Linked DNA regions of Homo sapiens: regions 2 and 3 are each linked to region 1. Evidence: fine-mapped expression QTL. A gene starts in region 1. Each other region holds a variant in brackets. All regions are shown on one strand. Distances are between the middles of the regions. Region 1 holds the start of POPDC1 (popeye domain cAMP effector 1). Region 2 overlaps POPDC1 (popeye domain cAMP effector 1). Region 3 overlaps POPDC1 (popeye domain cAMP effector 1).

The links. PIP is the estimated chance that this variant, and not a neighbour inherited with it, causes the effect.
Region 2: its variant is the best candidate, but not a certain one, in a credible set for the expression of POPDC1 in esophagus muscle (GTEx, PIP 0.78).
Region 3: its variant is the best candidate, but not a certain one, in a credible set for the expression of POPDC1 in tibial artery (GTEx, PIP 0.65).

What each region holds. Positions count from the first base shown.
Region 1 is chr6:105,135,919-105,138,681 of GRCh38, reverse strand. POPDC1 (popeye domain cAMP effector 1) reads left to right here and starts at 1,525. Exons shown (of 8, transcript NM_001199563.2): 1 at 1,525-1,713. POPDC1-AS1 (POPDC1 antisense RNA 1) reads right to left here and starts at 995. Exons shown (of 4, transcript NR_037157.1): 1 at 759-995. RefSeq lists silencers at 1,487-1,596, 1,607-1,726.
Region 2 is chr6:105,098,358-105,101,120 of GRCh38, reverse strand. It overlaps POPDC1 (popeye domain cAMP effector 1), which reads left to right. Exons shown (of 8, transcript NM_001199563.2): 8 at 1-2,763. The coding sequence ends at 32. Among named protein-coding and RNA genes, the nearest start is that of POPDC1, 37 kb to the left of the region's middle. The variant G/A (reference allele first, on the strand shown) is at 1,253.
Region 3 is chr6:105,114,406-105,117,168 of GRCh38, reverse strand. It overlaps POPDC1 (popeye domain cAMP effector 1), which reads left to right. Exons shown (of 8, transcript NM_001199563.2): 6 at 301-468; 7 at 1,342-1,483. Among named protein-coding and RNA genes, the nearest start is that of POPDC1, 21 kb to the left of the region's middle. The variant G/T (reference allele first, on the strand shown) is at 1,154.

The DNA.
Region 1 (2,763 bases):
GCTTGAACCCGGGGGGCGGAGGTTGCAGTGCGCCCAGATCGCGCCATTGCACTCCAGCTTGGGCAACAAGAGTGAAACTCTGCCTCAAAAAAAAAAGGCTGGCAGAGCATCTAGAAAGAAACAGACTCTAAAGAAGTAATCTCAAAAAGTAATCTTTTATGGTTATAGGAAAGTTCAGACGTATTAGAAAAGGAGTTTTATAAATACAATATATATACATAGAACTTATGTCCCAAACACCATTTTAAGACCCTTATATATAATTACACCATTTAGTCCTCAAAACTATACTATGAAGTGCAGGTACAATTATCATAATTATCATCATCATCATCATCATCATCATCATTATCCCCATGTTCCAAAAAGGAAACTGAGGCACAGAAGGGCTAGGTAACTTCTCCAAGGTCACACAGTAAACTGGTAGGAGAGGGAGTATTCAAACCCGGCTTGTGTGACATCAAGGCCCATGCTCTTTCTTACTAGGCTGCACCATCTCTTCAACCAGAGACTTGTCCAGTGTGCACCTCCAGGTACTCTTTATAATGTACCTTCACACAATCGGTGGTGGTATTTTTTATATTGAGATCACATTTCACATGCATGAACGATCTCATAATCTAATAACTGATGCCAATTTTAACCAATAATGGGACACTTTTGGTGGAAACTGGGTACCCATCTAACCTTCCTCTATTGTCCTACAAGACAACTCCCAACAACGCCAATTCTTTATTAAGTTTCCTTGCTTTTCTTACCCAAAATAGTTGTCCAGTGAACAGTAAAAGTTGATCGGAGCATACTCTCATGTCTTATTTTCCAACGTATGGCCCAAATCTACATTCAGGTAGTGCTTTGCCTACGATGGAGGGCCTTGTACCGCCTGGGATTGCTAGTTTCGGTTAAGTACCCCTGTTTGAAAACAAAAACAGTGGCGCGTGTCAGAAGTCCCTCCCGCGCGGCCTCTTCCCCCTCTTCCTCCGCAGCAGGAGGCCTGACCCCCGCGTCCTGCACCCGTGTGGACCAAACGTTCAGCCTCCCCCGCCACAATCGGACGGGAACTCGCGCGCTTTCCGGGCTATTCCCTGTTTGTGCTGAGTTATGGGCGAATCTCCCAAAAAGGAGATATACGAGTGGGTCGTCCAACTTTGAGGGGAAACGAGGATTCTCTTTCTCATTTTCTCTCCTGATTTCTCTCCCTACCCGGACCGCACTTCTCGAATTATCCCCGTAAGGAGGAACGACGAATGCCGCCGGTCCCACGAGACTGCCGCCCCCCACTCATGCCCAAACAAGGATAGAATCTTGTAGCGAGGCGACAAGAAAATAAATAAGCGGGCGTTTCAAACCGAGTCCTCGGGTGTGCAGACCCGCAGCGGAGTCGCGGGAGCGAGGTGGGAAATCCTGGCCGCGGCGCCGGGCTCCGCCCGCCGGGGGGCGCGGGGCGGCGGGCGCATGCGCGTGCGCGGTGCGGCCCCAGCCCTGGCTGCCGCCGCCTGCCGCCGCCGTCGCGATGCCTATTTTAGTCAAAGCGGCTGCGGGCTTGGGGACCCGGCCCGGGCAGCGGAGCTTCCGGACCCGCCGACCCGCCGAGGAGCGCGCGTCGGGCTCCCGTCGAGCAGCTGAGCCCGTGTGCCCCGCGTCCCGCGCCCCGAAGCTGCCGCTCCGAACTTTGGTCGGCGCTGCCCAGGCTCCCCGCCAGGGACCAGCCGGGTAAGGATGGGAGGCGCAGCTGCAGCCGGCTTTCCCCCCGCGCCGGGTTGTGTGCGGCCTCGCGCTCCCCTGGCTAAATCGGGAAGCGAAAGTTGGATCTCAGCCCCTCGGGGAGCAACTTTGTCGGCCCTGGCGGCAGCTGCTTGTTCTACGCGCCCGGGCAGCCGGGGGCGCCGCCCTCTGTCCCTCCTCGCTGGCCGCGCCCTCGAGGGGCTCCCGGCCCTTGGAGGCCGCCCTTCTCCCCGGGTCTGGGCGCTGCGGCCACAGAGACCCTCAACGGTCAGCGGCCGCCGCTCAGGTCAGGCAGCCCCAGCGTCCCCGGGCCCTCGGCCCCACCGAGTGCCGGCTCCCGCGCTCTGCGGCGGCAAGCCCCTTGGTGAGCTCCGTCTCTGCTCTCTCCGCCGAGTCTCCGGGGTTCCTCCTCGCCCCCTGTAGGGCCGCCTCGAGCCGCGCAGAGCCTGCGTGCAGCCGGGCGCGCGGTGTCGCCCACTCCGTCCCCGCTCGGAGAGTAGGGTGGGCCACGGCGCTCACTCCTCACCCCCGCGTCCCGAGAGCGCCTGGCCGAGGAGGACCGTTGCCACGGACCCTCCTCCTTTAAGGAGCGAGGTCAGAGGGCCCCGGGAGAGCGCCGATGGCTGGGGACCCGAGGTCCGCGCCACCCACCCGCAACCTCCTTCCCCGAGCCTTTGGGAACGGGTTGTTGGCCAGACAAGTCCCAGAAACTGCCTGCTTTGAAGCATGAATAAGTGCGAAAAGACTCTTAGCAATGTAATGCCATTTGCCATTCGGGAGATGTGCGAAGATTCAGTTAGAATTACAGAATGAATTAACTCGACTAGCAAGACGCTCGTTTGCAGTTATCTTTTTCATTTTTTTAGTTTGGTAGAGGTTTAATGTTAGTTTCAGCATTTAGCTATTTAGCCCTACAATCACCTATTTGAAAAACGATAAACAAAACTTTACTAGTATAGGTAATTTAAGGACTTCAACTTTGATGATCTGATGAGGGAAAAATAATTTCTCTTGATTTAGTCAAAATTAATCTGAAAA
Region 2 (2,763 bases), 38 kb after region 1:
CAAATACATTGAAAGTCCATCAGCTGCCTTGATCAGAGAGAGAATTCAGGTTACCAAGACGGAAGGTGTCTTGAAGAGATCCTGAAAAATACCAGCACTTTTTCATGGCTTTTAGGTTATTCTGCTTTAGTGCATCCAGACTGGTGGAGTCGGAGGGAGGAAGTGAGGAAGGGTCAAGGATGGAAGAGTTCTTTCACTTACCCTTTTTATTAGTCAGCTTTTAAAGTAATTGTTTTACTGAGCCTTCTGACTATGCCTTGTTCTCTTTTGAGATATATATTTTCACAGTCTTTTCTAGATATATTATTGTTTTAACTTAACAAATCTTAGCAATCTCTCAATGCCTTTTCACTTATTTTTTTCCAAGTTATGATTCTTTTTCCTCACAGTCTTTTTTGTTCCATAGCAATGAGGTTGTCCATTTGATAATTTTAACAAACAATGTAAGTTTAAAATTGAGGCTAAGGTAACATGAAAAAGCAGGGAATCTCAAACTTTATTCCATATATACACACACACACACACACACACACACACACATACATACATACATATATATATATATATACATATATATACATACACACATACATATAATTTTTTTTTTTTTTGAGATGGAGTTTCACTCTGTCGCCCAGGCTGGAGTGTAGTGGCACATTCTCAGCTCACTGCAAACTCCACCTCCTGGATTCACGCCACTCTCCTGCCTCAGCCTCCCGAGTAGCTGGGACTACAGGCACCTGCCACCGCGCCCAGCTAATTTTTTTGTATTTTTAGTAGAGATGGGGTTTCACTGTGTTAGCCAGGATGGTCTCGATCTCCTGACCTCGTGATCCGCCCACCTTGGCCTCCCAGAGTGCTGGGATTACAGGCGTGAGCCACCGCGCCCGGCCTATTCCATATTTTTTTAATGGGACATTTTAGAGAAAGGTGTGATTTGACTGGTTTTATTTTTCTCCCAGGCCAGAAGTATTACTCCACTAGATCACCTTACTTAATTGGGCACTGTGTGGATAACTTGATAATGAACAAAACTCTCAGATTTTACTCACATTACCCTTGTATTATGCCATTTATAAACTGCTCTGAAACCTGAAGCTGGAAAGATAACAGATGGGTTTCTGAGCACGGGGTTAACCTCCAGCTAAACTCAACTTCCTTGGGATTTGGAGTCACCATGTTGTGCACACTCTGGTGTGGGAAACACTTTATGTAGGGTGGGAGGACAGGGGAGTTAAATGGCTGGGCAGGT[G/A]CCACAGGATGAGGCCACTGAAAGATCTGCTTCATTCTTTGATCTGTATTCTGAAGTTCCAGATTGTTCATCTAGAGGCAGAGACATCTCTTTTAAAAAAGTGCCAGATGCCCCAGTGCCAGAGCTGCGAACGTGAACACAGTGGAAGGCAGAGGGTTTACTACAGGCCAGGCCATGGACACCCCACCCAGGTACTGCAGTGAGGGCCTTGATTCCAGAGCTCTTTTTCCTACTGAAATCATGGTTTAGTAAACAGTGGCATTTGGCTGGTGGGAAATGCGTAACTGGTCAGTGTGTCTGGCCAGCGTGGCTGTGGCACTTGGCCAGGACGCTCCGTTGAATGAAGCTCATTGATTGGCCATGCTGGTCATGTCTATTTTGCTTCATCCACTAGAACCAACTTTGAGTCAGTCTCCTGTTACGTTAAATGGCTAAGAAAAGTTCCAAATGAAGTTGTTCTCAGGTGAACTGAGCCAAAAGAAGCAACTCTTACCATGAGGTGATTTCTGTTAGAGGAGACATATAAATAAGCTCATCTAGGGTCACCTCATTTTCCTAAATATGTTTTTAAAGCAATTATTGTAGTAATTTCATTTGAGTTAAATTTACATGCTCGGTCACTCATTGAGAAAATTTACACAGACTCTGAATCCAGTTCCTGTCATCTTCAGATGTTGGTTTATTGACATCACAGTAAAAAGGCTACTGTCGACTGGACACAGTGGCTCACACATGTAATCACAGCACTTTGGGGGGCCAAGGTGGGTGGATTGCTTAAGCCCAGGAGTTCAAGACCAGCCTGGGCAACATGGCTAAACCCCATCTCTACAAAAAAAATTAGCTGGGTGTGGTGGTACATACCTGTAGTCCCAGCTACTCAGAAGGCTGAGGTGGGAGGTTCACTTGAACCTGGGAGGTTGAGGTTGCAGTGAGCACAGATCACACCACTGCACTCCAGCCTGGGCAACAGAGTGAGACCCTATTTCAAAAAAAGGCTGCTTTCACTGTACTGCTGCAGCAGTCTCTTCAGGTAGCTAAATTAGGAGCTTGTTTTGGAGAAATGAAGCAAAGGTGAATGACAGCCTAGGCTTGAAATTATAAAGCTCTCTCAGGTTGAACTCTCTCGTGCGCTCTCGCTCTCACTTTCGCCCTGTACCTGAGAGCACAGGTGTAACTGTGATGTCATAGTGCCGAGACTACTTTCCTTTAACCATTGGGGTTAAGTTGGGCAGCCCATTTAGTTTACACGCGCATAAGACTAATTTACAAAATCACTCTATACAGTCATTAGATGTAACATCCTTCCCTGAGTAGAAAGTAATGCATGTGTTTGGAGATTATTTTCTGTAATGCTGGGAACAAACCTGTTTTAAAAGCACACTGCTAAAAGTAGGTGATATAAGACCATTTGCTGTTTTTATTAAAGTATGTGTGTGTATCAGTGTCTCAATGTGAAGATTGTAACCTCAAGATTAGGAATCTTAAAAGAGCCACTTAGCCTGAATGGGAAA
Region 3 (2,763 bases), 22 kb after region 1:
AATACATGCTCCAGCAGCGGTATCAATACAGTGGCCATTCTTCTGTCACCAGACCTCACAAAACAAAACAACAAGGAAACACAGAGAATTTGCTTTTATTTAGTCTGCAGATTGCTTTTTTAAAAAACATAATTTTATACGTGTAGAAGCTTGTGTGCATTGAGTCTCCTTTTTTTTATAATTTGACAAATCATTGCTATGATAATGTCCACTAAATCATTCCTAGTTTTCTAAATCACTATAGTCATAATTCATATACATAGATGTACTTTATTCTTTGCATGCTTGTTTCTTTGGCAGGTCACCATTATTGCAGATGATAACTGCAGATTTTTATGCTGGTCAAGAGAAAGATTAACATACTTTCTGGAATCAGAACCTTTCTTGTATGAAATCTTTAGGTATCTTATTGGAAAAGACATCACAAATAAGCTCTACTCATTGAATGATCCCACCTTAAATGATAAAGTAAGTGTTCTCTGAGTTTATTTTGTTAAATAAATATGTATATGAGGTATATTTCACTTTATGAAATATGTTTTCCTGAATTTTTAGTAACTAGCCATATGTTAAATGTACTGGGGATACTTGTAATCTTGAGAGGAGAAAGTATTTTGTAATGATTAGATTTGCTGTTACTTAGTAAGGAGTCTACAATTGTCAGGGACTAGCATTTATGGTGATAAGGCACCCTCTTCATCAAGAGCATTTTAAGGAAGATGGTAAAGGAGTAAGAGGGGGTGGAGGATGGAGTAAGTTAGGGAGGACAGGGCAGCTGGAGGTTTGCAGACAGAGAAAGGCTGACAGACCCCAGCGATCAGGAAGTTGGCCTTTGAACCCTGCTGTCTTCCAGTCTTGCATATCTTCAGGTCAGGCGAGAAAGTGAAAGGAGAGGTGTAGAGCTGCATAGATCTTCAGCAATTTGCAATTTGATCTTAATTTTCCCGTATCTTTTTAGAAAGAAATTAAAATGATTACAAGAGAGAATTTTTAAAAACGTCGTTTCTGTGATAAGTACTGTTACCCAGTGACAATTGAGTATATGTGCCCTTTCAAAATCATCTTATCTGGACTGTTTATCAAATTAAGCTGGTGCTTATTTCAGTTAATTATTTAGCTTATTATAAATAGGCTACTAAGTATATTTGATTTT[G/T]TATAATATATTTATAGTAATAGCTAATAATAAAAATCATAGCTTATGTTTATTGGCCACCTAATATGTATCAGGTATTCTTTTTTTTAAATGCACTAACGTATTTCTAGGAAAAGTACATGCTGCTTAAATGGAATGTATGATTCAACTCCCATAATTCTCAGAAAGCTTAAAACTTTGCTTTGTAGAAAGCCAAAAAGCTGGAACATCAGCTCAGCCTCTGCACACAGATCTCCATGTTGGAAATGAGGAACAGTATAGCCAGCTCCAGTGACAGTGACGACGGCTTGCACCAGTTTCTTCGGGGTACCTCCAGCATGTCCTCTCTTCGTAAGTTATCCCAAAACTGATACTACTCCAGAGTTCTGATGGGTATCTCTGGACATAGACAAATGACAACTTTGATTAGAAAAATAACTTTGCAGGTAACTATTTGAAAGGCAACCTAAAGGTAACAATAAAAACAATCAAATTTTGTTTAGCATTTCCCCCATATTGCATATGAGCTAAAAGCCAACTTTAGAACTATTATTTCTGTTTCAGAAATTGAAATTGTTCACTGGTTTTGCCATATACTTTGCTTAAATAGTGGCTCACTGGCTGGGCATGGTGGCTTACGCCTGTAATCCCAGCACTTTGGGAGGCTGAGGCGGGCAGATCAGCACTTTGGGAGGCTGAGGCGGGCGGATCACGAGGTCAGGAGATCAAGACCATCCTGACTAATACGGTGAAACCCCGTCTCTACTAAAAATACAAAAAAAATTAGCCGGGCTTGGTGGCAGGCGCCTGTAGTCCTGGCTACTCGGGAGGCTGAGGCAGGAGAATGGCGTGAACCTGGGAGGCGGAGCTTGCAGTGAGTTGAGATCACGCCACTGCACTCCAGCCTGGGCGACAGAGCGAGACTCCGTCTCAAAAATAAAAAATAGTGGCTCACCAGAATACTCTAAGAGTCCACATGGTTTGATTTTTTTGCTTTGGTTTTGTTTGTTTTTGTTGCCATTTGGCTTTGTTACTTTCATGACTTTAGTTAGAGTGAAAGCCTAGACCCAGAAATGTTTTACTAAATGGTAGACAAATAAATGCTGGGTGTTCTGCTGCTGGCTGGTTATCTCAGTATGAGTGCCGTGAGTTAAAAAGTGACTGAGAAATGGATTATTCCCAAAGATGAAGGAGATCACTCAACACCCTTGTGAGCTACCTCATTCACACGCCTGCCAAGAGGCACATTTTCCGGTATTCTTCCATAGTTTAGATTGTTTCAAAACATTTTAAGTAACACAAATAACCCAGATGTTGAAAATTAGTAAGTAAAATGAGAAAAACTAAATTAAGAATTAAATACTTTAAGAATTATTCTAAGAATGATGGTATAAAAACTTTGAACAAATTCATATGAAATAGCAAAAAGGCAGACATTCTTCCATTGCATGAATTAAAAACTATTCATATTTCCAATTGTATTTTAAACCAAATTAACTTTTAAAAAATGCAAACACATTCAACAATTCTTTATGTAAATGATTTGTAACTTTGTATGCCTTTAGATAAATTATATTAGGGATTTTAAGTATTGCATAGTCAGGAGAGGCTGGAATTTACAAGGCCATATA